Regions from separate parts of the Homo sapiens genome. Here all the other regions are reported to be linked to region 4. Evidence: microRNA targets listed by miRTarBase, many of them from high-throughput screens and not tested one by one. Region 4 holds a microRNA gene; each other region holds the end of a gene's coding sequence.

Region 1 (5,087 bases), not on the chromosome of region 4:
GGCGCACTATGGCTTCCCCTGGGCCCACACGCACCTGTGGCTGGTTGACGAGCGCTGCGTCCCACTCTCAGACCCGGAGTCCAACTTCCAGGGCCTGCAGGCCCACCTGCTGCAGCACGTCCGGATCCCCTACTACAACATCCACCCCATGCCTGTGCACCTGCAGCAGCGGCTCTGCGCCGAGGAGGACCAGGGCGCCCAGATCTATGCCAGGGAGATCTCAGCCCTGGTGGCCAACAGCAGCTTCGACCTGGTGCTGCTGGGCATGGGTGCCGACGGGCACACAGCCTCCCTCTTCCCACAGTCACCCACTGGCCTGGATGGCGAGCAGCTGGTCGTGCTGACCACGAGCCCCTCCCAGCCACACCGCCGCATGAGCCTTAGCCTGCCTCTCATCAACCGCGCCAAGAAGGTGGCAGTCCTGGTCATGGGCAGGATGAAGCGTGAGATCACCACGCTGGTGAGCCGGGTGGGCCATGAGCCCAAGAAGTGGCCCATCTCGGGTGTCCTGCCGCACTCCGGCCAGCTGGTGTGGTACATGGACTACGACGCCTTCCTGGGATGAGGGCGCCTGTGCCCCTTGCCCGCTTCGCTCCTGTGCTTTCCTTCGCCCGTGTCTTCCCTCCCTTCTCGGCCCCGCCACCTGCCCAGCGTGCCCTGGCTCTCCAGAACCTTCTATCCCACAGTCAGGCCCCAGAGAGGGCAGGACAAGCCTTGTCCCGATGCCTTTGACCGGCAGCTCTGTGTATTGGTGGATAGATGCAGAAACAAGGAAGAAATGGAGTCTGCTCCTGAGAAGCTTCAAATTCAGGCCAGGAGAGAAGTCTTAAGAAAAGACCTCCAGCAGTTACACATTCATATCAACCAGCACAACACGGGATGGCGCCCAAACTCCGGCGTTCACAAGAGGAGACGTGACGTGGTGGGCTGAGGTTAATCAGGGAAGGTTTCCTGGGGGAGGTGATCCTTGAACTGGCTCCCGGGGAACATTCAGAGCATGATTGGTAGACAGAAGGGTGCAGAGGCGCCCAGGGGAGTACATTGCCCCGTGCAAAGCAGGGGCATTGGGGACTGTCTTGAGACCCTGAGGGGGTCAAGCCCCTCCTTCCCCAGCTGCCCCTCCTTCTAGAACCTCTGCACATCTAGCCTCTGGCCCTCCTCTTCACTGCCTCCACCTGCTCCCGCTTGCCATCCCTGTCTCCTCCATCCTGGCTGTGCAGTAGGAATTCCAGGCTCCTCCCTGTGTCTTTGCTGTTCTTCAGACTCCATTTATAGAGAATGAGGGCTGATAACAGGAATACAGTGGCAAAGACTAGACTGTGGAAAGGGTTCCAGAAATCTTTTTTCTTTTTTAATTAAAAAAAATATTTGCAGAGATGAGCTCTTGCTATGTTGCCCAGGCTGGTCTCAAACTCCTGGGCTCAAGCGATCCTCCCATCTCAGCCTCCCAGAGTGCTGGGATTACAGGTGTGAGCTACTGCGCCCAGCCCCAGAAATCTCAGTGCTGTTTGGAGCTCCATTTCTCATTTGATGACTTGCTCTGCGTGGGGAGGTGGGGTCTCATTCCCCCAACTTCCTCAGGGAGGACCCCTGCCCTCCGCTGCTCCTCTGTCCTGCTAGCCTTCCTCCAGGAAGCACACTGGGTGCAGATAATCAGGACATTCCAGAGATCCCCAATTTAAGAGGGTCATTTCCATCTCAGGGGACTCCCGGATGGGTGTTTCCGCTCTCAATAGCCCCTCTTGTTTTACCAGGAAAGATCCAGTTAAATCACCCACTGAGGTGACAGCTCATTAGCGGGGAGAGAGATGGAGCATCGAGTGACACTGGGCCATCCAGGCGGCTCTGCTCCCACCAGACAGGAGCTAGGCCTCACTGGCAGGGGGGCTGCCCACAGCCTTTTCAGGGGCTCGCTTGGCGGGTGACGGGGCCGCAGCCAGGCCTTCTCTCCCTGCCCCTTGGTGACCCCGTGGCTTCCTGTCTGCTGGCCTCTCCTGCTACTTATCACTTCACCACGAACTCTCTGCCTGAGACTGGGGAAGTAAGCGGGTATCTTCTCAGTGAGCATAGGTTGGGGACTGTGATCTTGAGAAGCCATGGGCCAGCAATACCTGCTTTTCTGAAGCCCCCAAGGAGGGCTCTGACATTCTTTTTAAAAACACCACAAAGCAAAATTCCCAGGACATGTGTAGTTTTGTTTGTTCAGTATCCCACAACTTAAGGCTGGGAGATGGAACTCTTGGTTAAGGTCGATTTTTCTGTCTGGCTTCTCCGCACCTTCCACTTGCTCTCTGGATCAGGCAGATATAAACTTTCTAGCGCATTTTGAGAGAGGGCTTTCTTGGGTGAGGGAGCATGGCAAAGTCGGTTTCTCTCTGGACTGTTTACACTTCAAGGCGGTGGATTTAGAGGAATCCTGGCTTTCATTTTCAATGCCAGTCTGAGACATGTTCCCAAGCCGGGGCTCTTGTTCACACCACTTACTCTGGCCACCAACAACAACCCAGGCCAGACAGAGCATCTCTTTTTTTTTTTTTTGAGACAGAGTCTCTGTCGCCCAGGCTGGAGCCCAGTGGCGAGATCTTGGCTCACTACAACCTCCACCTCCCGGGTTCAGGCAATTCTCGTGCCTAAGCCTCCCGAGTAGCTGCGACTACAGGCGCCGGCCAGCATGCCTGTCTAATTTTTGTATTTTAGTAGAGACAGGGTTTCACCATGTTGCCCAGGCTGGTCTCGAACTCCTGAGCTCAGGCAGTCTACCCACCTCAGCCTCCCAAAGTGCTGGGATTACAGGCGTGAGCCACCGCGCCCAGCCAGAACATCTGTTTTTACACCCAGAGAGCGCCCCTCGTTAGGACAGAACCACGGTGCCCAGAGCCAGGAAGCCGCCCTCCTGGCGCCCAGCATCTGAGCTTCTACACGTGATGGGCGGGCTCAGGAGAGGACAGGGAGTCGTGGTGGAAGTTCCACAGCTGGCCGCGTGGGGGGGCCCTTGCACCGCACTGCCGCCTCCTGACTGCCCCTATCCCCGCAGCCCCTGTGCCGGATTTCATTTCCCTCCTCTCTCCCAGGGTACCTGGCCCCAGCACTCTCCCATCTGTTCTTCAGGAACCGACTCCTCTCCAGTTGCAACACCAGGGAGAAAGGGGCCTCCACATGCCCAAGTACCCCTGCAGGATGAAGGGCAGGCCGGCCCTTGATGTGCCATTTCTGAATAATAGTCACTGCCGCCGAGTCTAGGATGTCCTGTTCTAACTCAGCCCTGCCTCGGATGCACCACCGATCTGTGCAGAGTGGGTGTGGGAGTGTGGGTGAGGGTCGAAATGCCAAAGGTCTACTTTCCAGAATCAAGTGCCTTCTGCAAATCATGTTGGAAAAGTCCAAACCTGGAGATGTCCCTGTGCCTCCGCCCCTACCCACCCCTTTTCCTTCAGCTGTGTTAGGAAGGAGAAGTTTTCAGAACCCTCTAGGCTGGTGGCTTTCAAACTTCAGACCATGATCTGCAGCAAGAAACGTGCCTTCCATCATAAATCAGTCCATTTGTTTACAACTGTGTTCCAAGCAGGTTTCATAAAGAAATTCTTAACCTTAGAACCTCGGATATCCTCTATGTTTTAGTTTTCATTTTTTTAAAATGCTTCTTAAAATTCACTAAATTGGGCTAGGTGTGGCTCATGCCTGTAATCCCAGCACTATGGGAGGCTGAGGTGAGAGGATCACTTGAGCCCAGAAGGTTGAAACCAGCCTGGGCAACATAGTGAGACCCCATCTCTACAAAAAGTTTTAAAACCAGGTATGGTGGTGCCCTCCTGTGGTCCCAGCTACTCGGGAGTCTGAGGTGGGAGGATCACCTGAGCCCAGGAGACTGAGGCTGCAGTAAGGTGTGATTGCACTATTGCTCTCTAGCCTGGAAAACAGAGTGAGACCCTATCTCAAAAAAAAAAAAAAAAAAAAAGGAAAGAGTGATGACAACAGCCCAGGGAGCAGCCCCGCTCAGAACCCAAGTCCCAAGTTCCAGCACTGTGTTCCCAGGCAGGCTGTTTGCCTCTTCCTGGTCTGGAAGCCCTTGGGTCCTATGGTGGCGGCAGCTCCCACAGTCCAGGTTCCCTGGTGGGGACCAATGATTCCATCCGCATGGAAGCCCACGTGTGCACTTAGGGGCCCATAAATGGCAGAAGGGCCCCTCCTTTGGGAGACCTTGTCAGTCAGCATCTCTAGGGCAACCGTGATTGCCATTTGTAGAGGGGAAGGAATCAAGGGACTTTAAGCTAGATCAAAATCTGGGGACAAATTCTCCTGCTAACTGCAAGTTAAAATAGGCCCTTCTTACTGAATTTCCCTGTTTGTTTCTCTGCAGACAATGCTTTAGCCCTACTCTTGGGCCCCCAAGTTAGCAGAGTAATCAAAGCTTCCTACCGTTTGGCCTACTATTCCAGACTAGTCCCTCGAGGGGTTCCCTTCCAAAATATGCAGGGCTCAGGCTCCCAATTCCGGGCCTGTCTGCTTTGCTTGTGTTTCTCCTGTCCCTGTTCTCCCGGAGGGCCCAGGTGGAACTCACGACAGGGAGGGAGACGCTTCCCAAAAACCTGCAGGGCTATTTCCCAGAATTTGGTTTTCAAGTACAAAACTTTTTGTCCTGTAAGATATATGCAGCCTCACAGAAGCAGCCTCTGCCTCCACTTTACCAGCTACGTTTTTATCTTAAGCACATGGGGCTCCCTTAGAACTTACTCCACTGATTTAAAAAAAAAAAACTGCCTGGCAGCATCTCAGTGTCAGAGTGAGCACGGCACAGGAAAGGCCCGTGGTGACGAGGGTGAGGTGGCCACAGTGACCGGACGACAAATGAGACTCTGCAAATGAGACTCCAGAGGGTGAAGATCTGCGGTCTCCAGACATCATAGGCCATGTGACCCACTAGGGGCCGCTTACCCCTGGCCGTCCGCTGGCTGAACTGAACGCATTCCCTCTCTCCGCAACTCTCCCGTGAGGCTGCACCCGTGTGGGTAGCACTGGAAGCGGCACTGTTTGCATTGTACATAGGAAGGAAGGAAGTTCTTCCAGCCTCACCAGCACCTGGCAGCGAG
Region 2 (5,088 bases), not on the chromosome of region 4:
AGGAGGATGCAGGTGAAATAATGTCATTACTCTATCTGGAAAATCTGCTCAGTATTTAATAGGGCTGGAATTTTATTTGTTCTATAACTTTGAAGATTTTTCGGCATGTTCGATGTTAAGGTTTATATATTTAGATAAATATAAGACGGCAAACTGAAATGCCATCTTCTCTAAACGAAAATGCCATCTTTTCCTCAAAGTTACATTGTAACACAAATTTCATTCCTGGACACTTTGTGACTGGTTCACTAGTGTGTGTGTTTTAAGAGAGCATATTTAGAGAAATAAACACGTATTAGATGCAAAAAAATCATTTTTACTAACATCAGTACTACATTACATACATGAATATATATTTAAAACATTTTTTAATTTGTCAAAACTCCTTCCCCTATATTATTATAGATTTCAGTTGTTTTAGAAATCAAAAGTAATCTCTAAACAAATTAAAGGCAGTGATTCTCAGAGTGGGATTGTACTGGAATCATCTGAAGGGTTTTAATGTGGCCTTTCCCTGCTCTTTTCAAGAGATTCTGGAGAAGGTGGCAGCGTGACCCATCAGCTAGTAATGCCACTGGGGGTGGACACGTAGGGTGTGCTTCCTTCAGGGGTTCCAGGGACGCTGGTAATCAATAGGGGCAGCCTCCGCTGTTGGCAAAATGGGTGAGCCTGTCACAACGGCTGCCTTTGTATTCCCCCTCAGAGTGATCCAGAGTTTGTGCAGTGGAAGAAAGAGTTGAACGAAACCTTCAAGGAGGCCCAGCGGCTATTGCGTCGTGCCCCGAAGTTCCTCAACAAACCTCGGTCAGGTACTGTGGAGCTCCCAAAGCCATCCCTCTGTCACAGAAACAGCAACGGCCTCTAGCACCCAGAAACAGGGAGGGTCCTCGAGGAGGACACACCAGGGTCTCAGCCTTTTGGGGTGAACGAGGATGAGGCATCTGATCTATTCGCTACCGGGACTCCTCCAGGCTCCCGAGAGGAGTCGGGACCCTTCGGCTTGGGGTCAGCTCAGCTCCCTGCCTTGTCACATTTGTCTGCATTAGAAACTACTGAAGAAATAAAAGTTCTTTTTCTTTGCTACACACTTTGGTACCTATGAACCTAGAACTTGAAGTGACTCCTACTTATCACGTAAATTTTTATGTCTGATATCAAACACATCTTAGACTCCCCAGAATGGAATTTAAAGATGTTCAGTGTTGGGTAACAGATTGCCCTAAGCATTGCCACATATTCTGTCTAGTCACTGCTGATTTTCTATGTCTTTGCTCCATACTGCTGGGGGATGGGAGAGCCACAGTGTGTTTCTTTTGTGCACTTCGCAACTGACTTCTTGTCCTGGGGTTAAAAGTTGAAGATATTTTCTGATGATATTAAAAGTTGAAGATATTTCTGCACTTGGGCCCTCCTCTGGGAGCCGCACCCACATGACTGCCCTGCCTCTGACCAGTCTGTTCCGGGGCCCCCTCAGCCAGGTGGGAATGACGGACACGTACTATCCAAGTGTATGGGATTAACTAATCATTGAAGGCATTCATCCGTCCATCATTGGAAAGATTTACAGTGATTCTGAAGGACAGGCCGTGGAGTTTTAGGTTTCAGGGGCAAGAGCAGTTTTCAAAAGTCTTTGAGTCCAGTGTGCACGAGTCGACAAGCAGTACCTGGCATGCAGGAGCACTCATGGGTGAGTCCGTCTCAGGTCTCGACAATTAGCAGTTGTGTGACAGTCATTCTGGTTCCTTCTGCCTGACCCTGGGAGACATATCAGTAATGGATGTACAAAAGCAGGTCTGTTTTATGTCTTAGTATAATTTCAGATGAATTGTATTGAAAAAATGCTGAGGAATGAATGTGTCAAAATGGGTTAACTGTGTATATTGACTTTCATGTCGTCATGCATCTGTCATGAATGAATGATACTTTGCACTGGGCTGTACGACAGTGAGGACCTTAGGGCATGAAGCCTTTTTCCTGGTCCCAGCAGCATCTGCCCTGTGAAGTTTGTTTTCTCCCACTGCCTCCAGGCCCCACTGATACCCCCAAATAGATGCTGGGTTATGAGAACCAGCGAAATCCCCCATGTCATCAGTCTTAAAAAAAAAATTTTACAAATCCACGTATTTGTCCCATTCTTGGAGTAGTTTTAGTGTATGTCTTTACATTAACTACTAACAGTATAAATAACTTGACATCGTAATTGTCTGCATCCTGTCCTTGATATTTTTAGCAGTTCCAAATCTTTGTTTTTGTATTTGTTTGCTGTGTTCATGGGCAAAGTAAGTACTTTTTAATGCAGTTATTTTGAGAGTTTGGAAGATAATTACCAAAAGGGTCCATTATTTCATAAGAGTTACTTTGCAAAAAAAAAAATGTGGGTTTTTTTTTTTGTCTATCTCAACTACTAGTTGGGGTTTAAATTAACATACATTTTCTACTATCTGTTATTTCCAGTGTGGGAGGAGGGATGTACTACTTACATGCATTCTCCTTATTTAAAAAGGAAGAATAGTATTCAAATTCTGTTGAAACACACACACACACACACACACACACACACACACACTCCAGAAGCAGAAAAGCCATTGTTCTTAAAGAGTGAATGTCTTCCCAGCCCTGGTTAATTATAGCTGTGACTGATGCCGTTCCCGTCTGCATCTCAAGCTCATAGGTTCTCAGCATGTGCAGTTGAGGATGCGCTGGGCCTCATGCCTGTTCTAGATCTCCAGGATAAAGGGCCTGCTGTTGACTCCACCAGGGTCTGGGCTTAGCGTCTAATATCTCGTACCTAGGGCGTGAGCTGCACAAACGTGTTCAGAAAGATTATTCAACTTTCCCATACTTGTTCTAAAATTGAGCTGATCCGCATCTCTTTCAAAAACTAGAATTTCTGCTCTAAGAATAGAACATAAGGCTCCACTCCCTTTTAGAAAAGATATATGAATTGGAAAATGCTCTGAAAGTCCTTTTGCTTCAAACAAAAGTGTAAACTTTTACACTTCCCCAACTCACATTTGATTTGTAATGATATGGTTGAGAAGTACATCTAGATGTCATTTATTAAAAGTGCTTTGTAAGACTAGATTGAGCTGTTTCTGAGGGCGGTCACCAGTTGTGTTGGGGTCTGGTTTGAGTGCCTTCTGCCAAAATGTTGTGATGGAGGTGTTTCTGCGACCAGACACAGGATACCGCTGTGTCTGCACCCGGTTGCCTGCATGGCCAGAGGAAAAGTCAGTTGGATTAAACATCATGGTATACTTGGCTGTTGTTTTTTTTTAATTTTTTAATTTTTTGGGATAGGGCCTCGCTCTGTCACCCAGGCTGGAGAACAGTGGGATGATCATGGCTCACTGCAGCCTTGAATTCCTAGGTTCAAGCAATCCTCCCACGTCAGCCTCCTGAGTAGCTAGGACTACAGGTGCATGCCACCTTTCCTGGCTAATTTATTTTTTGGGTAGAGATGGGGTCTTGAACTCTTAGGCTCAAGTGATCCTCCTTCCTTGGCCTCCCAAAATGCTGGAATTAGAGATGTAAGCCACCATGCCCAGCCATAGTACTTGGATGTTTTAGAAGGTTTTCCAAGTATTACATAATTCCTAGATGTTCACCCTTATTACACTCCAACTATTAAAAAGGTCAAAATTCAGCCTATTTTTTTTCATTATTTTAGATTCCTGTGGTTGGGATATTTTAACATTGATGAGAAAAATAATTGAGGTTGATATTTTTACAAAATCATGCGGTAATAAGTCTTGATTTCATGATTCAAAAGAATCAATAAAGCCTAAAAATAATAGATTACTTTAAGCTGCTATGTAAGATATATATGGAATAAATTAAAAACCTTTGTGAATTCAGGTTTATTATTTTTAACCTAAAACATTCTCTTTGGTTCATTCATCCCCTCATGTCATGGGGGCTCATTGGTTTTCCTTCTTTGTCATATTTAAGTATGATTTTTCAACAAAACTTCTAGAAGTCAGCTTATTATGTCACCATTCATGCAAAGTGCTCATGCCTCTGATTGGTCCATTCACTGACGTGACAATTTCAGGTCCTATGTTTAAAAAGAAGGGGCTGGCCGGGCACGATGGCTCACGCCTATAATCCCAGCACTTTGGGAGGCCGAGAGGGGCGGTTCACGAGGTCAGGAGATTGAGACCATCCTGGTTAGCAGAGTGAAACCCCGTCTCTACTAAAAATACAAATAAAAATTAGCCGGGCGTGGTGGCGGGCGCCTGTAGTCCCAGCTACTTGGGAGGCTGAGGCAGGAGAATGGCATGAACCCGGGAGGCAGAGCTTGCAGTGAGCCGAGATTGCGCCACTGCACTCCAGCCTGGGCGACAGAGCGAGACTCTGTCTCAAAAAAAAAAAGGAGGGGGGCTAAATATCCAGTGAGATGCACTGAGGAAAGGAAGCATTTTGCTGAAGACAGCAGCAGCAACAAACAATGGTCTGTTTGTTGCAAACAAGATGTAGCTTGATTTCTGGTCTGACATATGCCATATACAGATATTAGAAACGACTGTTTGAAGGCCACACTGGTCATCTACAAAGTAATGTTTACCAATTGACGACAGGGATTTAACTAGATTAAAAAGATCAAAGTGTGGTTTTTCTCTGCTTTTTAAAATTTCACTCGGAATTTGTAGCTGGGCCAATTCAACACATTTTACTTTTCAGTGGAATTGATTTTTCTAATGTTTCAGAATTTTAACATATCAAGAAGAAAACAACGTTCTCAAAGTCTGGCCTCTTTAGCATGATGTAAACCTATAGAAATGCTTTGAAATGTGCTGGTGTAAGATAAGAGTTATCTTGTATGATTTAATCATATGCAGTGTTGTCTCAGTTACGTTCAGGGAAATGTTTCTGTGTCATTCAGAGATGCTTGATGAATTAACACCTCCCACCCTGAGTGAGGGGTTGACTTGTTGGGAGATGATTTGGGCTTCACTGGGATCTGTGACAGGTGGGGGCTGGGCTGGGTGTCACAAAGAGAATAGTGGTAGAAATCGGGCGAAGGAAGAAAGAAGTTACTGGTAAAAATCATTACACCATAAAGCACCAAGGAAATAACTGAGTTAA
Region 3 (5,088 bases), not on the chromosome of region 4:
TGGAGGGAGGGCTAGAGAGAGGCTAGCTGTGTTGGTCTGCCAATCTCCTGTGTCCCACACTGGCTACAAAAATACAACCACTGGGTAGGTAGGGCTCATCTAGAACCAGAATTAGGAATAAGGATTGAGAAGAAAACTCAGCAAGGGTGATGAATGAGTTTCAGCTCATTGCTGGAGTTAGCTGAAGAATGAATAGGACACAGTGGATGAAGGAACAAGCTATTCCGGGGACCTTTTGAAGCCCTCGGACCTCACATCCCTAATAGCTAAGGAAGGATAAAATGGATGTAGGCCAGTGCTAATCGTTTGAGAAATTTTGCTAAAGGAAGATTTTGATTCGGTAGATCTGCAGTGGGCCTGAAATTCTGCATTTCTGTAAGCTCCCAGGTAATATTGATGCTGCTGGCCCATGGATCACATTTTGAGTAGCAATGATCTGCACCAGTGCTGTCCAATAGAATTTTTGCAGTGATGGAAATTTTCTACATCTGCACTGTCCACTATGGTTACTGAACACTTGAAATGTAGTTAGTGCAACTGAGAAATGGAGTTTCTAATTAAATTAATTTTTTTAAAGAGTAGGGGTCTTGCTCTGCTGCCCAGGCTGGAGGGCAGTAGCATGATCATGGCTCACTGCAGCCTTGAACTCCTGGTCTCAAGCAATCCTCCCACCTCAGCCTTCAGAATAGCTGGGACTACAGGCGCATGCCACCATGCCTAGCTAGTTAAAAAAATTTTTTTTCAGAGACAGGGTCTCACTATGTTGCCGAGGCTGGTCTCAAACTCCTGGCCTGAAGCCATCTTCCCTCCTAAGCCTCCTGAGTCACCGGAATTACAGGCTTGTGCCATTATGCCTGGCTTAATTAAATTACATTTAAATTTAGATAGCCACATGTAGCTACAATATTGGACAGGATAGATCTAGACATTCATGGGTCATTTCTTGTCAGCAAGAACAATATATATCACAATCCCAAATGACCTAATCCATCAATTCACTTAGATTATCCAGCAAGTATCCTTTTACAGAACGCAAACTGTAAAATTAGTGTCTTTAAATTGTTTTCTTCCTAACACTTAGTTAAATGACCCACCATGTATGCTTAAGCGAGAAATGAAAGGGGTCATTTTGTAGTGGGTTAATTGATGGGGAAAGGAAAGTAGAAGGCAGTGAGAATTTCAGCAACCATGATTATATTGGGCATTGGGAAAATGAAGAGCCAGGATGTAGGAAAGAAACTCAGAAAGGGAGGTGAAGAGACACTAAAGAGAAATATTGCATACTCAGGAATTTTATTTAGGTCTGATTCTGTCCCTTTCCTCCTTTAAAAGCAAGTTCTTCCTCAGGAAATGGAACTGAAAGAAAATACATTCTGGCTGATGGCCTCCCCTTCCCTGCCCTCCCACCAGCCCCGATCCTCCAGGTGAGGAAGAGCCTATCAGGGAGAAGAGGTGACAATTCCAGCCATTACAGTCATTGCAGTCAGGTGCAGGTGGGAACTTCTCACCCCAGCTCATGCATAGATCAAAGCATAGAGGCCCCATCCCACTCCCCAAAGCTGTGATCTGATCCCATGGAGAAGCTCTTCCCTACTTTTTATTTTTTTTGGTAACCCCATCCGCTATAAGAAGAGGAATTATTTATGATACTGACAAGAGCCTAAGGAGGCTCTGAAGACCCCCTCCTGGAAACAGGTGTCAGTGAAGTCATTTGGGCCCTGCACAGCCATGCATAGACAAAGCATACAGAGAAAATTGCTCTCATTTAACAAAAAGTATATCCAAATTGTCATTTTATAGAATTTCCCTCATCCAAAGCCATTTGCAGGAAAATTCTAGCTAATTAAGGATTCCATTAAGAGACTCACGCTCTACCAACCGAGCTAGCCAGAAATGCACTGTAGGATTCCATTAACTGAGACTTTACAGCATATACAAAAGATGTCACCTACGAGTGAAAAGCTCACCAAACGAACAAACAAAAATTCAGTCCTTCACATCACACTCTTAAATTTGGGACACATCATAGCTAGACTCTTTTCTATTAGCAAAGGGGAATGGGGGGTGAAAATCAATATAGATATTTATATTAATACATTATTTATGCTAGAGTTCTTCCCCTTCTTTCCCTCACATTTCCTTTTTTTAGTAAAGATGGACAGAGATCTGTAATGTTAGAGAGTTCTGGGAACCTGGCACCTCCTGTTTGGTTGCACAGGAAAGTGTTCACAGGAGCAGGACAGCACTTAGGTGGGACTATCAGAGGGACTGAAAAAGGAGACCTCTGACTTCGTAAGTGCAGATACAATTAGAATAATTGCATAATTCATGACTATTTTTTTTTGAGATTGAGATGGGAGTCTTGCTCTGTCACCCAGGCTAGTAGAGTGCAGTGGTGTGATCTCAGTCACTGCAACCTCCATCTCCTGGGTTCAAGCAATTCTCCTGCCTCAGCCTCCCGAGTAGCTGGGATTACAGGTGCGTGCCACCACACCCGGCTAATTTTTGTATTTTTAGTAGAGATGGGGTTTCATACACTGGTCAGGCTGGTCTCGAACTCCTGACCTCCGGTGATCTACCCACCTAAACCTCCCGAAGTGCTGGGATTACAGGCGTGAGCCACAGCACCCTGCCTCATGACTTTTTAAACTACTTGATATAACTGTCTTTGGAAAATTTCCATTTATTTACAACTTAGGTAAAATATATAGTCAGACATACTTGGTCAGGAATCCCTCAGGGTCATTTATTTTAAAGACATTAAAATTTTGTGATTTTTACTAGTAGTTAAATACCCAAGTTATAAACAAGAGTAAAGTGTCAAACAGTTAAACTCCTTTGATGTAATTAAATAATATGCCTGACAATAGTTCATTTTAAATGCTCGCCTATTAGTATTTCTCTTTAAACACTGGGGAAATAATTGTCTAGAAAATATCAATGATGCCATATCACAAGGTTATATGTATGTAGGTATATATATACACATATAAATGTATATGTGTATGTATGTATATATACACATATATGTGTATATGTATATATCTGTGTGTATATATATCTATTAAGCACCTAGCAGGCTACTTCATAAAAATTGTCACCACTGAGTCAGTACCCTGTTTATTTCTCTTATATACAAATTTTAAAATATTATAATTAATGTTTTGGTATATAATGGCTAAAGAAAGCTTATTTAAGGATATTTTTGTGACTTTTTGATACGTATGCCTTTGGCTTTCAAAGATTTGATCATTGTAATGTTGACTTCTAATAATAAGCTACACTGAAGTACAGTGGTTTAGAAAAAGGAAAATAATATCCACCTGATAAGAATTAAGAATTAAGTGAGATAATAATAATAACAACATAAAGCCCTTAAGAAAAAATTTAAATCCCTTCTGTTTGGAAGATCGTGTCAGAAGTCACTGTAGAGAGCGGGTGAGTCTGGGTTATCTGTCAGTATATAAATCTCAGTTGACACCTCAGGGAATTCCTGGATATCAACACTTTACTATATTATAAATTCAAATAGAATATTAAATAATTATTAAATTGAAATTAAAAATTAGAAACAAAATGTGGAAATTTTGGTTTGGAAAGCTGTAACAAGTTTTGTCAGGTAAGGGAGCATGTAATTTTATGAAAATATCCAGAGAATTTTCTTAACGTGCACGCCTACTGCTTATGATAGATTGAAATAAAATTGACTTGCATGTGATGTATATCATTTGTTGATTATGGCACAGACACACTTTCACAAAGTCTTAGGTACAGAATATTTACGCAAAATCCCACATTAAAAAACAGAAAAGTGCAGTGCCCTTAACCAACAAAAATGTACTTTAGTAATAAATTAAATCCCATTAACATTAAAACTGACATGAAAGCTATTTAAAGTGTTACAGTATTAGATGTGACATGCAAGAAAAAGAAAGACATTTCAGGCAGGAACATCGTGCATTAAGATTTGCATTCATTCATAGTATTGGAAAGGTTTTCAACATATTTGACCACTAAGCACTAGGAGTTGGAGGTGATACCAATCTACATTCAAATCACAACTTAATTTATATTTTAGTCTCCTAACCTATGATTTTAAGAAAATGGCCAATGCCCCCCCGTAATGAAACCTAGGAAGTTTTAACCACATATTGTTATGCAGTTGCACAGTAGGAACATTCCATCAGACCAGATCTATGGAAAGTAAACATTTTGCAATTCCACTGTTTAGACAATGCAATCGTCTCAGATTCCTCCTACCTTATTACCATTGTGAATATATTTGAACATGTCAGGTTTGCACAAAAAGAAAATGGCTTTGTGGAATGTATTGTTCGGCACAAAAATATTTTCTAATACCTCAAATCAAAATTTCACCCACAGCAAAATATCAAGCCACAGAGGTGCTTCAGTGGTGCTTACTTATCTATGCAGAAAACTACAAGAACAGCCACTTGCTTCCAAGGACTTTGTATTAAGTGGCAATAACTTCTCTTCCAAGAAATAGCACCAATATGATTACACCTCCGACTGTGGAGTGCTCCTTCCAAGCTCTTTAATTCCCTGGAGAATTCGCTTCACATGACCCACTTTCGGTATCCCCAGATCCTAAAATAAAAGAACAGAAAAAGGTAGAAATAATTAAAAATGAAAGAAAAAACACAGAAAGAAAATTTTAAAAATGAAAGAAAAGGAAAAAAGTTTATTGAAAATAGAAAATTGGGGATTAAATATTTAACCAGCAAGAAACATAATTAGCATTCAGTTCATTCATTTTAGTTTATATTCAGTGATTCAGGAAGTGAAAGCTAGAAAAATAAGTTCATAAAACAAAAATAACCTGACACCAAAGAATTCCCAACTGGTACAAAAAAAAATCACATTCTACATAAACTCTTAACTGTGACATTCTCATAATTATACACAGTGGCTTTTGACTTCAAAAGTCAAAACCAATTTAGTTTCTTTCTTTCTCTTTCTTTCTTTTCTTTCTTTCTTTCTTTATTTCATCTCTCTCTCTTTCTTTTCTCTTTCTTTCTCTCCCTTTCTTCTTTCTTTCTTTTCTTTCTTTTTCTTCTCTCTCTCCCT
Region 4 (5,088 bases):
CTTGAATCCGGGAGGCAGTGGTTGCAGTGAGCCGAGGTTGCGCCACTGCACTCCAGCCTGGGCAACAGAGTGAGATTCTGTCTCAAAAAAAATAAAAATAAAAATAAAAATAATTAGCTAGGTGTAGTGGCACACACCTGCTGTCCCAGCTACTTGAGAGGCTGAGGCAGGAGGATCACTTGATCATTCATTAATTCCACCAATATTTATTTATTTATTTATTTTATTTTTTTTGGAGACAGAGTCTCACTCTATCCCACTGGGCTGGAGTGCAGTGGTGCGATTTTGGCTCACTGCAACCTCCACCTCTCAGGTTCAAGCCATTCTCCTGCCTCAGCCTCCCGAGTAGCTGGGATCACAGGCACCCACCACCATGCCTGGCTAATTTTTGTATTTTTAGTCGAGGCAGGGTTTCACCATGTTGGCCAGGCTGGTCTCTAACTCCTGACCTTAGGTGATCCACCTGCCTCTGCCTCCCAAAGTGCTGGGATTACAGGTGTGAGCCACCATGCCTGGCCCCCACCAATATTTATTAAGCACCTACTATGGGCCTGGCACTAGCCTAAAAGCTGGGAAATCAACTGGAAATAAAACAAAAATTCTTGTCTTTGGAGAGCTGACATTCTATTAATAGCAGGAAGAGACAGAAGATAAACAATAGGCGTTAGAAGCTAACCCCTGTAATCCCAGCACTTTGGGGAGCTGAGACAGGAGGCTTTCTGGAGCCCAGGAGTTGCAGACCAGCCTGGGTAACATAGCGAGACCCTGTCTCTACAGTAAAACAAGTCAAACAAACAAAGACCCAATAGGTATTAGGGCTGAGACCAGGACCAGGGTAAAGCAAGTAATTATTTCTTCCCCCAGAACATTAAATTAATTTTTGAAAAACTTGAAAAGTAGATAAATGAAAACCCAACATTATTTTAAGTTTACATATTTTATTTATAACCAAGCCAGAATGTGTTATAATTTTACTGTCCTGGTTTTAATGAAAGCAAACTCATCAATAATACTATTTTCATTGAAACCATTAGACATTTTCAAAGACACATTAAAACACATATAGGTTGGTGCATACTTTTTTTTGGCTCAAGTTACAATATGGCTAGGCACAGCCTGTTGGATTCTGTCTTTATTTAATTTTCTTTTTCTTTTTCTTTTTCATTTGAGATGGAGGACTCTCTATGTTGCCCAGGGTGGTCTTGAACTCCTGGGCTCAAGCAATCCTCCTGCCTCAGCCTCCTGAGTAGCTGGGATTATAGGCATGTACCACCACATCTGGCTTAAATTTTGATATTTTGGCTTATGATAGATTTTTGGCATTAATTTTAGGCTTTTCAAGTATTGCAATAAGATATTAGTTTTTTCTTTTCTTTTTTTTTTTTTTTGAGACAGTCTCACTCTGCTACCCAGGCTGGAGTGTAGTGATGTGATCTCGGCTCACTGCAACCTCCACCTCCCTGGTTCAAGCGATTCTCTTGCCTCAGCCTCCCAAGTAGCTGGCATTACAAGTGTGTGGCACTATACCCAGCTAATTTTTGTACTTCCAGTAGAGATGGGGTTTTGCCATGTTGGGCAGGCTGGTCTCAAACCCCTGACCTCAAGTAATTCACCCTCCTCTGCCTCCCAAAATGCTGGGATTACAGGCGTGAGCCACTGTGCCCGGCCTCTTTTTCTTTTCTTTTTTTCTTTTTTTTTTTTTGAGACAGGGTCTCTCTCTCTGTCACCCAGGCAGGAGTGCAGTGGTATAATCAGCTCACTGCAGCCTTAGCCCCCTGGGCTCAAGTAATTCTCCCACTTCAGCCTCCCAGGTAGCTAGGACTACAGGCACACACTACCACACCTGGCTAATTTTATTATTTGTAGAGACAGGGTCTCGCTATGGTTTTGTTGTTTGTTTGTTTGTTTGTCATTGCTTTTGTTTTGAGACAGAGTCTCGCTGTGTCACCCAGGCTGGAGTGCAGTGGTGTGATCTTGGCTCACTGCAACTTCTGCCTCCCAGGTTCAAGGGATTCTCCTGCTTCAGCCTCCCAAGTAGCTGGGATTACAGGCACCTGCCACCACGCCTGGCTCATTTTGCGTTTTTAGTGGAGATGGGGTTTCACCATGTTGGCCAGGCTGGTTTCAAACTTTTGACCTCAAGTGATCCACCCACCTCAGCCTCCCAAAGTGCTGGGATTACAGGCATGAGCCACCGTGCCCAGCCTCATTATTTTTACTGTGTGGCTTGGGCTTCAGTCTCCTCACCTGTAAGATGGGACAGTAGCAGCAGTATGTACTCTGAGGGGCTGAGAGAGGGGCCGGGCTGAGGCAGAGTGCCTATGAGCCCTGTCCCTCTGTGTCCCCTGCCACAGGCCTATGAACGCTCTGAGAGCTTGGAGGTGGCCTTCGTTACTCAGCTGGTGAAGAAGTTGCTTATTATCATCTCACGCCCTGCGAGGCTGCTGGAGTGCCTGGTGAGGGGGCTGGGCATGGGTAGGGGTGGGTTGGTAGACCCTGGGAGCCTGTGGTGAGCCCACTCCTGCCCTGCCTCAGGAATTCAACCCCGAGGAGTTCTACCACCTGCTGGAGGCGGCCGAAGGACACGCCAAGGAGGGCCACCTTGTGAAGACGGACATCCCCCGCTACATCATCCGCCAGCTGGGCCTCACCCGTGACCCCTTTCCAGGTGCCGGCTGGTGGGCGCAGGGGGACTGGGGGTGAGCAGGCCCAGAACCCAGCTCGTGCTCACTCTCAGTCCCTCCCTAGATGTGGTGCATCTGGAGGAACAGGACAGTGGTGGTTCCAACACCCCTGAGCAAGACGATCTCTCTGAGGTAAGGCTGGGTGGCTAAGCGGTCAGTACCCTGGTTCCTGGGAGGGCAGGGTGGGGCTCATCTCCGGCTTCTTTGCCCTCAGGCTTTGTGGATCTCTTGGTCCTACACTCTGAGCCTCAGTTTTCCCATCCATAAAATGGGATTAATAATAGCTCTTCCAGAGCCTGGCATGCTGGCTCATGCCTGTAATCCCAGCACTTTGGGAGGCCAAGGTGGGCAGATCACCTGAGGTCGGGAGTTCGAGACCAGCCTAACCAACATGGAGAAACCCCGTTTCTACTTAAAAAAAAAAAAAATGCAAAAATTAGCCAAGCCTGGTGGCACATGCCTCTAATCCCAGCTACTTGTGAGGCTGAGGCAGAAGAATCACTTGAATCCAGGAGGCAGAGATTGCTGTGAACTGAGATTACACCACTGCACTCCAGCCTGGGCAACAAGAGCGAAACTGTCTCAAAAAATAAAATAAAATAAAATAAAATAATTGCTCTTCCCCTGTGACCTCTTTGTCATGTTAAAATCCATGAAACATAAAATTTAATTTACTTTTTTAACCATTTTATTTTATTTTTATTTATTTATTTATTTATTTTTTGAGATGGAGTTTTGCTCTTGTTGCCCAGGCTGGAGTGCAATGGCACTATCTCAGCTCACCACAACCTCCATCTCCTGGGTTCAAGCAATTCTCCTGCCTCAGCCTCCCGAGTAGCTGGGATTACAGGCATGTAACACCACACCCGGCTAATTTTGTATTTTTAGTAGAGACTAAAATTTCTCCATGTTGGTCAGGCTGGTTGCAAACTCCCAATCTCAGTTGATCTGCCCATCTCGGCCTCCCAAAGTGCTGGGATTACAGGCATGAGCCACCGCGCCCGGCCTTTTTAACCATTTTAAAATGAACAATTCGGGGCCGGGTGCAGTGGCTTAGGCCTGTAATCCCAGCACTTTGGGAGGCCAAGGCAGGAGGATTGTTTGTGCTAAGGCATTTGAGACCAGCCTGGGCAGCATAAAAAATCAGCTGGGCGTGGTGGTGCACCCCTGTAGTCCCAGCTACTCGGGAGGCTGAGGTGGGAGGATCCTATGAGCCCAGGAAGTCAAGGCTTCAGTAAGCCATGATCACACCACTGCACTCCAGCCTGGGCAACAGGGTGAGACCCTGTCTTGAAAAATGAAATTAAAAATAATAAAGAATAGGCCAGGTGCAATGGCTTATGCATGTAATCCTAGTACTTTGGGAGGCCAAGATGGGTGGATCACTTGAGGTCAGGAATTCGAAACCAGCCTGGCCAACATGGTGAAACCCCATTTCCACTAAAAATACAAAAAAATTAGTTGGGCGTGGTGGCACATGCCTGTAATCCCAGCTACTTGGAAGGCTGAGGCAGGAGAATTGCTTGAACCCGGGAGGTGGAGGTTGGTGTGAGCCAAGATCCCACCACTGCACTCCAGCCTGGGCAACAGAGCGAGACTCTGTCTCAAAATAATAATAATAATAATAATAATAATAATAATAATAATGATTAATAGTAATAAATAAACAATTCTGCAGCATTTAGTAATTCACCATGCTGTACAGCCATTAGATCTATGTAGTTGCAGAACTTTTTTATCACCCCCAAAGGGAAACCTCACACCCATTACACACTCCCTCCTCATTCCTCCCTCCCTGCAGTCCCTGGCAACCACTAATCTATTTTCTCTCTCTGTGGAATTGCTTTTTCTGGATATTTCTTTTTTTTTTTTTTTTTGAGACAGAATTTCACTCTTGTTGCCCAGGCTGGAGTGCAATGGCGTGATCTCGGCTCACTGCAACCTCCGCCTCCCAGGTTCAAGCAATTCTCCTCCCTCAGCCTCCTGAGTAGCTGGGATTATAGGCATGCGCCACCACACCTGGCTAATTTTGTATTTTTAGTAAAGACAGGGTTTCACCATGTTGGTCAGGCTGGTCTCGAACTCCTGACCTCAGGTGATCTGCCTGCCTTGGCCTCCCAAAGTGCTGCGATTACAGGCGTGAGCCACATGCCTGGCCTTTTTCTGGATATTTCCTATAAATGGGATCGTATGCTCTGTGGCCTCTTATGACTGGCTTATTTCACTTAACATAACGTTTCTGAGGTTTATCCATGTTGTAGCTTGTGTCACTGCTTCATTCATTTTTATAGCCGAGTAATATTCCATTGAATGGTAGATGCATTCATCCACTGGTGAACATTGGGTTGTCCATCTTTCATCTGTTGTAAATAGTGCTCTTATGAATGTGGGTGTACAAATATTT
Region 5 (5,077 bases), not on the chromosome of region 4:
TGTCTCTGCCTTTTCTTCTAAGTTTTCCTCCTTTTCTTTGCACAGGTGTCAGGTAGCACCCCAGGGGTGCAGGAGCTGGTGTTTTCATGACAAACAAAAATGGGGAGGTTGACTCTATCTCAAAACTAGCTAGCCCAGTCCACAGGGCAGGATAATCCTGATGGCGTGTAGCCACATTTGCTGCAAACCAGATGTCTGCGATGGATATAATGATACCCCCGGGGCTCTTCTCAGGGGTGAGGACAGGTGCTGGTTCCTGATGGTGCATGGCTGGTGTCCAGTCATCTTTAGCTGGGCAGTGGCCCCTCGAGGCTCGGGCTTCCCTGCACAAGGTATTTTTGATCCTTGCCAGCGGAGGGAGAGAGAGTTATCTTGGTTTCCTTTCACTTGTTTTCGGGCTGCTTCAAAGCAAACATCCCAGTTCCAAATGTTCTTTGTGGTTTGAATCCTGGCAGAGGCCAGGGTCACATCCAAGTGGGACTGGCCTCTAGCACCACCTTCTGGCCACAGCAGAGAATGGGATTCCATCAAAGCCTCTCAACCAGCCGTTTCCCTAAAGAATCACCCAGATCTTAACTGCCCTCTCCACCTTCTTTTTTTTTTTCCCTCCTATTTTACATTCTATTTTCTCATATCCAGCTTTTCTCTCTAAGCCTAACCAAATGCTTTGGTGAATGATGCTTGGAAAAGCTGGAGTTTTAAAAGGCATTCATCCATTTATGAACTTTCTTCCAGCCCAGGATCCCTGCAGAGAACCAGAGGTTACAAATCTGCCCTCCTTTCTCCCCTAAAAGGTGGCTGAGGGGAGGAGAGGTGCATGTAGCTCCAGCTATAGCAAATCAGTGCCCTGACTCACTGGGGAGACCCAGGGGGTTGGGATGTTGCTGACACCTCATGGGCCACCTCATCAGCCCATCTTTGTAGCTTCAGGTTCAGCTCTGGGTGCTGCAGGCAGGGACCCCTCTGCTCCCTGCCTGAATGCAGGGCCAGTCTCCAAGGAACTCTGTCTGCAGAGTAGAAAGAGCTGTGGGCTGGGAATCAGGGGCCTGAGGGAGCCCCTGCCACTGCCTGCCCAGAACCAGTGCTCCTCATTCTCCTGCTGACAGCATGCATGTGCCTTTTGGCTAACACACACTCTTGTCTAATTCCCAGCCACCTTCACCCCAGGGATGAGTTCCAGTTGGTTTAAGCCAGACTGGTGCATTTAATTCTGGCTGCAACAACTGGATTCTGTTAAGTGCCCATTGCTAAGCCAATGAGCTATCTGCTGGGCTGTGGGAAAGAGAAATGCAGTCTCCTGCACGGGAGGGTGTGAGAAGGCCACCCAGGCAGCCTGCAGCTAGAGCTCGGCGCTGAGAGAGCACAGGAGAGTCAGACACCTCCATTCTGGTTACACTTTTTCCAGATGCTGAATGGAGACTCGCTGGGAAAGCCCGCCTCCAGACAATTTCAACATAGCGCCGGTAACACCCTAGTTTTGCTCAAACTCTGACTTGTGCTATCTGTCCCAGACAGTTCACGACTGCCCGTCACTTCCCTCCTTCACACTGCACCAGGAAAAGGCCACACCTCCCTACACAGCAGCAGCCTTTTAGGAAATGTGCTCTACAGGAAAAGTGGTTTTTCTGATTAAACATCAGGAACTAGAGTCAACAATCGCTGTCCTCTCCCGTGCCTGTCACGCTCCACTCCCCACCCAGCTGCAATGTGGCCTTGATTTTCTCATCAGTAAAATGGGAAAGCTGGATTTGGAGGCTGGAAGAGATCTCACAGCTTGACCACCCTAGTAGGAGGGAGGGAGACCAGACGGAGGCCAGGCAACCGACCCAGGCAGCATCTGGCTCAGACGCAGACACATCTTCATGTTGAGGGACCTATTCTTACACAGCAAAACCCAGAGAAGTCGACTGCTCAGCCTGAGCCTGTCATCCCTATATAGACTCAGCTTTTAGGAGAAGAGGGAGAGTTGAGGAGATAGCATCGCTCTCTGTATCAGTGTCTGATGATCTGGAGTCTGCCCCTGGGGTCACTCAGTCACTCAACAAACATTTGTTGAGCTCTTAACGTCATATATGGGTGTGAGCTCTGCCCTTCGAGGCTGTATGTTCTGAATGATGACTCAGTGATTTACCAGCCTTTCTCAGAAAAAAGAAAAGTCTTTAAAGTTTTGGAGGATTTTAAAGCTGAAACAGGTTTTCGGTTTGTTTAACACATTCCCCATTCTGAACCTTTGAGAATCTAATAAAAGCTATGGTCCTTTCTCCAGAAAAATGCTCATATGCAGAGATTCAGGGAAAAAACCAAACTTGGCACGCAACTTCCGGGGACTCTTGTGAATGGCCTGAAGCCACCTGTGACCCATGACTGATGTCCCCAAGTTCCTCCCTCCCCGTGTGCAGAGGGGGCTCCCCCGAGCCTGGGAGCACAGGCCCCATGCCTCCGTCACACTCCACCAGGAAAAAGTCACGCCTCCTCAAAGCAGCAGCGACCTTTTCAGGGATATTTTCAACAAGAAAGTGGTTTTTCTGCTTAAACATTAGTAACTGGAGCCAACAATCACCGTCCCCCACATTCCTGTCACTCTCCACTCCACACCCAGCAGCAATAAGGTTTCACGGAGTTTTGGAGACTCCTAGCCTGAGAATAAATCCAAGTCCACAATGAGGAAGAAGGAAGGTTGGGTTGGGACGGGAGGATGCTGAGGACATTCCACAAACCATCCAAGCCCTAGATACCCCCAATATCCCACGTCCGAGGACTCCTACAAACCTCCCTTAAGCACCCCCACCTAATTTCCCAGCTACTGGGTGAGGCAAGCTTCATTAAAACACCAGGACCACCAACAGAGCCAGGGTGCAAACAATGTCAGTTGAATAAAAAAAAGAAATCAATAAATAATCAGGAAGGCTAATGAGGAAAAGAGAGTAGCTGGGGAGTAAGAAGATGAGGTATGTGGCAGTTACCATTCCTGGGATGTCCTTGACCCAGACCCCCAGTGACAGCCCCAAGATGGCCAGCAGGGACTTGACCCTGAGCTCAGGCCCTTGGGGAAAATGCTGCTGGCAGCCTCCTGTGTGGCTTTGGAGGTTACGGGCACCATATTGAACAGTCTGAGAATGAGAATGTACGTTCCATTCTGACGCACTGCTGGGTGGTGTTGAGTATCCTCAGAGCTTCGTTGCAATTCAGGTGCTGGCTCAGGAAACCAGAAAAGATGTTCCCAGCTACGGAGCAAGCAGGGCCGCTGGTGGGGGTCCCTTTTCCCAAGTAAGGGCTTTTGTTTCATTTCAGCCAATGCATGCTTTTCTTTCCCAAATACAAAGGCACATGGAAGTGGTCAGATCCGCTCTCGCCACGATTAGAACCATGAGACTGACTACTCAAAGGAACAACTGCTTGGGAAGAGGCATCTGCAGGAGTCAGAAACACGGTGCCAAGTTTGGGGTTTTTTTTCTTTTCTTTTTTTTTTTTTTTCAGAGACAGGGTCTCACTCTGTTGCCCAGGCTGGAGTGCAGTGGTGTGATCACAGCCCACTGCAGCCTCGAACTCCTAGGCACAAGAGATCCTCCCTCCTCAGCCTCCCTAGTAGCTGGGGCTACAAGTGTGTGCCACCGTGCCTGGCTAATTTTTTTAAATCTTTTATTTTTGTAGAGACAGGAGTCTCACTATGTTGCCCAGGCTGGTCTTGAACTCCTGGGCTCAAGTGATCCTCCCGCCTCGGCCTCCCAAAGTGTTCAGATTACAGGTGTGAGCCACGGCACCTGGCCTCAAGTTTCTGTGAAAATCTTTGGGGTAGGAGCCTCTGGTGGCTCATAAATGAGCTTTGGGAAGATGACAGGGTTATCACGCCAAGCAAGAGGCCAGGCTTCGTGCAAAGAAGGGCAGCATCTCGCCCCGAGCGCCAACACCGCCTGGCACGTCTCTGTGCTGGAGGTAATCGCCACTCAAGTCTCTGCCCATCTTCCTGGGAAACTGTCCTGTCTCTCAGAATATAGGCATCTTCCACATTCATTCCCCAAGCTTGCCCCAGGAGCCAAAATGATTTTAGTGTGTGGAGGTTGAACCTTTCCCAGCGTCTCCCCAGCTCTAGGGCAGCAGTGGGGGGACGTTGTCCCCACTCAAGACAGGTTCCAAGACATGCTCTGCCACGCTGGCAGAGCTTAGTGACCTTGCTGAGTAGATGCTGCCAACGGCTGGGTGCAAGAGGCTGTGAGCGGTGCCCAGGCACACACCTGAGGCTGCCCCTCCAAGCTCCGGGATGGAACGGCTCCAGCAAGATGCTGGGGCTGGAAATGCAGAGGTGTGACAGTGCGTCCATCCTCAGCCCTTCACTGCGTCATCTCCCCTTGAAGATCCGGATTTTATTGATGGAGGCCAAGGTGGCCGTCACGTTAGACTCAAAGTCTGCATCGTGCACCCCCGTCTTGCGAAAAGCCCCCGCGGATGGGTTGTTCTCCCAGTAGTGGTGCCAGTTCCCTTTGCTGTCTGCCCCGAAGCCGTACAAGTCCACCTGTGGGAGCAAAGCAAAGATGAGAACCAGACAGCAGGGCTGCTGGTGGCACCTCTGAGAAAGGAAGCCTGTAGGCGTTCCTGGAATCCCACAGGACCATAAACAGCATTTCCAAGGACTCTGACTAACCCTTCATTAAAAACCCTTCTCTACGTTCCTGGAACTCTCAGAGTCTTGGTGAAGCAAATGCAAGTTAAGTAAAACTCAAGTCTAATTCCAGAAGCACCCTGAGAGATTACTGCATCTGGGTGGTCTCAGGGGCCCGGGTCTTACCTCTGCAGCAAGTGCAACCTATTCTCCCAGGATTGAGGAGCTACAGAGGGAAGGAATAGGAAGGAGGGCGTGGAATGGAAGAGAGTGGAAGGAGAGCAGGGCTTTGGGGCCAAGCAAACTGCCCCAAATCCCAGCTCTGCCACTCCGTGGTGCCCTGGGCATGTGAAGTCACTTCTTTGAGCCTCACTTTCCTCATCTGGAAAATGGGTCCAAGAATCATGATTGCAGTGAGGCAGAGGGCAGGGCTGATCCCTTTCTTCTCTGTGGCCAACATTCATCTGGTCCAGGCGCCCT
Region 6 (5,088 bases), not on the chromosome of region 4:
TGGATCGGCAGCAGTAGGGGCTTATGTAAAAAGGGGGACATAGCAAACCACTGGCAAACAGCAGAAGTGTCACCCCAAAGGCCCCTCAGCAGCCAGCTTTGAAAGTCATTAGAAACTTGCAGGGGAGAACCTATCTAGTTCAAAGCTGGGCTCTCAACTCCAGCATAAGCCAAATCATGTAGCTCTCCTGAATGAGGGTTTAAGTGCTTCAGAGAAAGGTGAACGAGGAATTGGACTTGCCAGACCAGTTCACTGAGGGAAGGCTGGAGGGCCCTGGCATTAAGGACAGCACAGGCACACCAATGACAGAGCAAAGGTGCTGCAGAGGGGCCACGATGGCTAAGGAATGGCTTTGTTATGATTCCCTCATTGGCAGGATCTGGTGAAGAATCATCTGATGTATGCTGTGAGAGAGGAGGTGGAGATCCTGAAGGAGCAGATCCGAGAGCTGGTGGAGAAGAACTCCCAGCTAGAGCGTGAGAACACCCTGTTGAAGACCCTGGCAAGCCCAGAGCAGCTGGAGAAGTTCCAGTCCTGTCTGAGCCCTGAAGAGCCAGCTCCCGAATCCCCACAAGTGCCCGAGGCCCCTGGTGGTTCTGCGGTGTAAGTGGCTCTGTCCTCAGGGTGGGCAGAGCCACTAAACTTGTTTTACCTAGTTCTTTCCAGTTTGTTTTTGGCTCCCCAAGCATCATCTCACGAGGAGAACTTTACACCTAGCACAGCTGGTGCCAAGAGATGTCCTAAGGACATGGCCACCTGGGTCCACTCCAGCGACAGACCCCTGACAAGAGCAGGTCTCTGGAGGCTGAGTTGCATGGGGCCTAGTAACACCAAGCCAGTGAGCCTCTAATGCTACTGCGCCCTGGGGGCTCCCAGGGCCTGGGCAACTTAGCTGCAACTGGCAAAGGAGAAGGGTAGTTTGAGGTGTGACACCAGTTTGCTCCAGAAAGTTTAAGGGGTCTGTTTCTCATCTCCATGGACATCTTCAACAGCTTCACCTGACAACGACTGTTCCTATGAAGAAGCCACTTGTGTTTTAAGCAGAGGCAACCTCTCTCTTCTCCTCTGTTTCGTGAAGGCAGGGGACACAGATGGGAGAGATTGAGCCAAGTCAGCCTTCTGTTGGTTAATATGGTATAATGCATGGCTTTGTGCACAGCCCAGTGTGGGATTACAGCTTTGGGATGACCGCTTACAAAGTTCTGTTTGGTTAGTATTGGCATAGTTTTTCTATATAGCCATAAATGCGTATATATACCCATAGGGCTAGATCTGTATCTTAGTGTAGCGATGTATACATATACACATCCACCTACATGTTGAAGGGCCTAACCAGCCTTGGGAGTATTGACTGGTCCCTTACCTCTTATGGCTAAGTCTTTGACTGTGTTCATTTACCAAGTTGACCCAGTTTGTCTTTTAGGTTAAGTAAGACTCGAGAGTAAAGGCAAGGAGGGGGGCCAGCCTCTGAATGCGGCCACGGATGCCTTGCTGCTGCAACCCTTTCCCCAGCTGTCCACTGAAACGTGAAGTCCTGTTTTGAATGCCAAACCCACCATTCACTGGTGCTGACTACATAGAATGGGGTTGAGAGAAGATCAGTTTGGGCTTCACAGTGTCATTTGAAAACGTTTTTTGTTTTGTTTTGTAATTATTGTGGAAAACTTTCAAGTGAACAGAAGGATGGTGTCCTACTGTGGATGAGGGATGAACAAGGGGATGGCTTTGATCCAATGGAGCCTGGGAGGTGTGCCCAGAAAGCTTGTCTGTAGCGGGTTTTGTGAGAGTGAACACTTTCCACTTTTTGACACCTTATCCTGATGTATGGTTCCAGGATTTGGATTTTGATTTTCCAAATGTAGCTTGAAATTTCAATAAACTTTGCTCTGTTTTTCTAAAAATAAACTTGGTGTCTGACTGAGTATAAATGGACTGGGTGGGAGAGGCCCCTCACCCAGTAGGGGCTGTTTTGCTGACCCCCTGAATATCCCTTGAGCACCCTGTCAGTGCCAGGCCTATGCTGCAGCCGTGATCTCGTGTCATCTGCACAATACTCATATGAAGGACATGCTGTTTGCCCTCACTGTCTGGATAAAGAAACTGAGACTCAGCGAGTTTAAGTGACTTGCCCAAAGTCACATGGCTATTACGGGAATTAGGACTCAAGCCCAGATCCTTCCTCCCTCTCCTGCTCCGCTTTCATATGAGAGCTTCGGAGTGAGTGGCAAGGTGACTCATAACACACAACTGTAGCTTGAGGGGGTGATTTGGGAGGAAAGATACCCCGAGGAAGGCCCAAAAGAAACAGGCAGGGTATACATAGGAGGGAGCGAGAAGAGCGGAACCAAATCAACAGGCGTGGGCCTCTTCTGTCTTCTGAAAACATCACTGGGCTCACTTAATGCATTCTCCTTAATACCAATCCACATGTGACACTTGACTTGGCAAAGGAGCTAAGAAGGCTCTAGTAAGAGAAGGAGGGAGAATGTATGAGGTAGCAAAACCACCCCCCTTTCCTTTGCTCTTCCCCTTACTTCCAGCCAAGGAAAGATATCCTCAGTCCCTGCTGAAAGTTCTCAGGGACACTGCTGAAAGTTCTCTCACCAAACCCACCAACCACGTGGGTAGGGCCAAGTCTAAGGCTCCTGGCTCCAGATTCCTTCCTCCACCTCTCTTTGGGGTTCATTATCACCCATCACCCTTTCCCAGCTCCATGTCCCCAGCATCCAGAGACCTAGCATTTCTCTGATTGGTTGTTGATGAGTGCTTAGTGTCTCCTTTACCACGCCCTAACCTGAACTTCCTCTGGACCCTGAGCTGTGTTCTAAGCCCACTATGTTCCCAAGGGAAACGATCACCTCTCTTCAAGTGACTCCATTCCATCTCAGCTTCTGGTAGCATATATACCTATCCTTTTCCCACTTGAAATTGGGGAAACAGAACTCCTTGATTTTCCTGAGCCACAAACCTCAGGGTGACCAAGATATCTTGCCCCCCGCCCCTTACATCAACCACTGCCTAAATGTAATCAAAATGACATGCTTCTTCCTCTGTAAAGGTCATACATGTTGACATTTTGGGTTTTTTTTTTTGGTTTTTTTTTTTGAGACAGGGTCTCACTCTTGTTGCCCAGGCTGGAATGCAGTGGGGCCATCAAAGCTCACTGCAGTCTCAACTCCCTGGGCTCAGATGATCCTCACCTCAGCCTCCTGAGTAGCTGGGGCTACAGGTGTGCACCACCACTCCTGAATATATATATTTTTTTGTATTTTTAGTAGAGATGGAGGTTTCGCCATGTTGCCCAGGCTGGTCTCGAGCTCCTGGACTCAAGCAACCTGCCTCCTTGGCCCTCCAGAGTGCAGGGATTATAGGCATGCGCCACTGCACCCAGCTGACCTGTTCTTTTCTAATCACCAAAACCCTTCAGAACATTGCAAACTCCTGCTTGCTGGCCTCTCAAATCCCAATTTCCCCACCTGCTCCCAACCTTGCTATTCATAATGCCAGGTTCATTGTCTATACCTGCCAACTGGTTCATGGCATGCAGATTCCACAGCTGCTGGTACAGATACAAACTTCAAACGAGTGCATTCAAAGCCCCCTGGCAGCCATTCCTCACCCTGACCAGCTCTCCCAGTCCCCACTTACTCCCAAATCCCCACCTTTCAAAATTAGCTCAGAGACTTTGTGGCTATTTGGTTCATCTTCTGTAGACTTCCCATGCCAGACTTGCAGCTGAATGAGAAAAAGCAGATGAAAAAAGGAAACCTAGAAAATAGCCCAACAACGCCCCAAACCTCTCTGGTCATCAAGCCTTTCTCTACAAGAAAGGGGAAAAAACTGGCCCCACAGTCACATAGTGGTAAAGAGAGAACAACTTTGTTTCCTAGGCAACGCTGACTAAACAGAGACAAACACTGCAACTTCTGAGGCCACAGCAGTTACTAGGCTAGATAAGAGGAAGTTTGTAGATGTTTCTTAGTCACATACAGGAGCTGCTTTCTGTTGTTGTTTCTCCACAGAAAAGTGACTAAGGGTGGAGGAAGGCAAAAGAACACGTTGCTCCTGGAAAGACTTCCATGGGTTTTAGGCTTCTGGGCTCAGCTGGTCCAGCTGGACCCAGAACGAGGAAAATAATAATGAGGCTTGAAGGAGTATGCATCCCCTGCCTGCTTTTGCCACCTCTGCATGTGCCCTCCCATCTATTCTCTCATCTCATCCTCATGGAGGCTTCCCAGCATAGCAGCAAGGATCACAAGAGCACTGCTCCCTGGCCCCGCTTCCGAGTACAAAACATTCTGTTTCCTGCCCTTAGAAAAAGAGGCAGTTATGATTTACCTCCATTTGACAGACGAGAAAACTGAGAGCCAGAGAACTTAGTGCTACTCCCATGGCTCCCACATGTCCCATGGGGCAGTGGTTCCCAACCTTAGTGACAATAAGGGCCCTTTTTTTATGTCAAAAATATTCTCAAACCTCCCCCAACTCTATAGTACTTGAACTTTTGGTATTCATTGAGAGAGAAAGAGAGACTCGGGTGGGCGGGGCCGGGGGGGGGGCGGCAGGACACATAATTACAAACACTGGCTGTGAATTCAGTGGGCCTTAAAGGAATTAATTATATTCACTACAAAATCAAAGACATGGATTTGAAAGCTAAAACAACAATGCATATATTAATTAGCTAGATTGAGCCATTCCACAATGTGTATATATTTCAAAACATCACAAATGCATACAATTTTAGTTGTGTCTGTCAATTTAAAGAAAAAGTAGACTAGAACAGAAATGTGGGTGATGGGTTATTTCCAGACAAGGACTGCTTGGGACACAAAGTGTGAGGCTTTCAAGCTGGGGATGGCCACAGAGGAGGGTGTTCCAGGAGGGCTCCGACAAGGAAGCCAGGGGCAGGGCCTCTGGGACCTGGAGTATCAGCAGAAGGACTCCAGAAAGACCATAGGAAAAAAGGTGCATGATCCACTGTCCTTTAAGGTATTGTGAAGTTGGCTGGGTGCAGTGGCTCACGCCTGCAATCCCAGCACTTTGGGAGGCCAAGGCGGGCAGATCACCTGAGGTCAGGAGTTCGAG

What was found. The annotated mature microRNA hsa-miR-6794-3p reads CUCACUCUCAGUCCCUCCCU and lies in region 4 at 2,727-2,746, shown strand. An mRNA with a match to its seed (bases 2 to 7 or 8) in the 3' UTR can be bound and repressed. Matches are read on the target gene's strand: a 7mer-m8 pairs with bases 2 to 8, a 7mer-A1 pairs with bases 2 to 7 and ends in A, and an 8mer does both.
Region 1: the mRNA of H6PD is a reported target of hsa-miR-6794-3p. Seed matches in the 3' UTR shown: 7mer-m8 at 3,917-3,923, 7mer-m8 at 3,960-3,966 and 7mer-m8 at 4,778-4,784.
Region 2: the mRNA of GRK3 is a reported target of hsa-miR-6794-3p. Seed matches in the 3' UTR shown: 8mer at 2,596-2,603 and 8mer at 4,176-4,183.
Region 3: miRTarBase lists DGKH as a target of hsa-miR-6794-3p. The part of its 3' UTR that is shown has no 7-base or 8-base seed match.
Region 5: the mRNA of ST3GAL1 is a reported target of hsa-miR-6794-3p. Seed matches in the 3' UTR shown: 7mer-m8 at 3,488-3,494 and 7mer-m8 at 2,578-2,584.
Region 6: miRTarBase lists TSC22D3 as a target of hsa-miR-6794-3p. Seed matches in the 3' UTR shown: 8mer at 1,784-1,791.

The regions. Positions count from the first base shown.
Region 1 is chr1:9,264,305-9,269,391 of GRCh38, forward strand. H6PD (hexose-6-phosphate dehydrogenase/glucose 1-dehydrogenase) reads left to right here. Exons shown (of 5, transcript NM_004285.4): 5 at 1-5,087. The coding sequence ends at 565. Among named protein-coding and RNA genes, the nearest start is that of SPSB1, 26 kb to the right of the region's middle.
Region 2 is chr22:25,721,586-25,726,673 of GRCh38, forward strand. GRK3 (G protein-coupled receptor kinase 3) reads left to right here. Exons shown (of 21, transcript NM_005160.4): 21 at 704-5,088. The coding sequence ends at 865. Among named protein-coding and RNA genes, the nearest start is that of MYO18B, 18 kb to the right of the region's middle.
Region 3 is chr13:42,228,619-42,233,706 of GRCh38, reverse strand. It overlaps DGKH (diacylglycerol kinase eta), which reads right to left. Exons shown (of 30, transcript NM_178009.5): 30 at 1-4,608. The coding sequence ends at 4,519. Among named protein-coding and RNA genes, the nearest start is that of AKAP11, 41 kb to the left of the region's middle.
Region 4 is chr19:12,849,580-12,854,667 of GRCh38, forward strand. MIR6794 (microRNA 6794) reads left to right here and starts at 2,681; the gene lies at 2,681-2,748. MAST1 (microtubule associated serine/threonine kinase 1) reads left to right here. Exons shown (of 26, transcript NM_014975.3): 8 at 2,355-2,456; 9 at 2,536-2,668; 10 at 2,749-2,816. RefSeq lists an enhancer at 2,610-3,110.
Region 5 is chr8:133,455,428-133,460,504 of GRCh38, forward strand. ST3GAL1 (ST3 beta-galactoside alpha-2,3-sialyltransferase 1) reads right to left here. Exons shown (of 10, transcript NM_173344.3): 10 at 1-4,510. The coding sequence ends at 4,337. Among named protein-coding and RNA genes, the nearest start is that of ST3GAL1-DT, 110 kb to the right of the region's middle.
Region 6 is chrX:107,710,038-107,715,125 of GRCh38, reverse strand. TSC22D3 (TSC22 domain family member 3) reads left to right here. Exons shown (of 3, transcript NM_198057.3): 3 at 377-1,905. The coding sequence ends at 607. Among named protein-coding and RNA genes, the nearest start is that of TSC22D3, 63 kb to the left of the region's middle.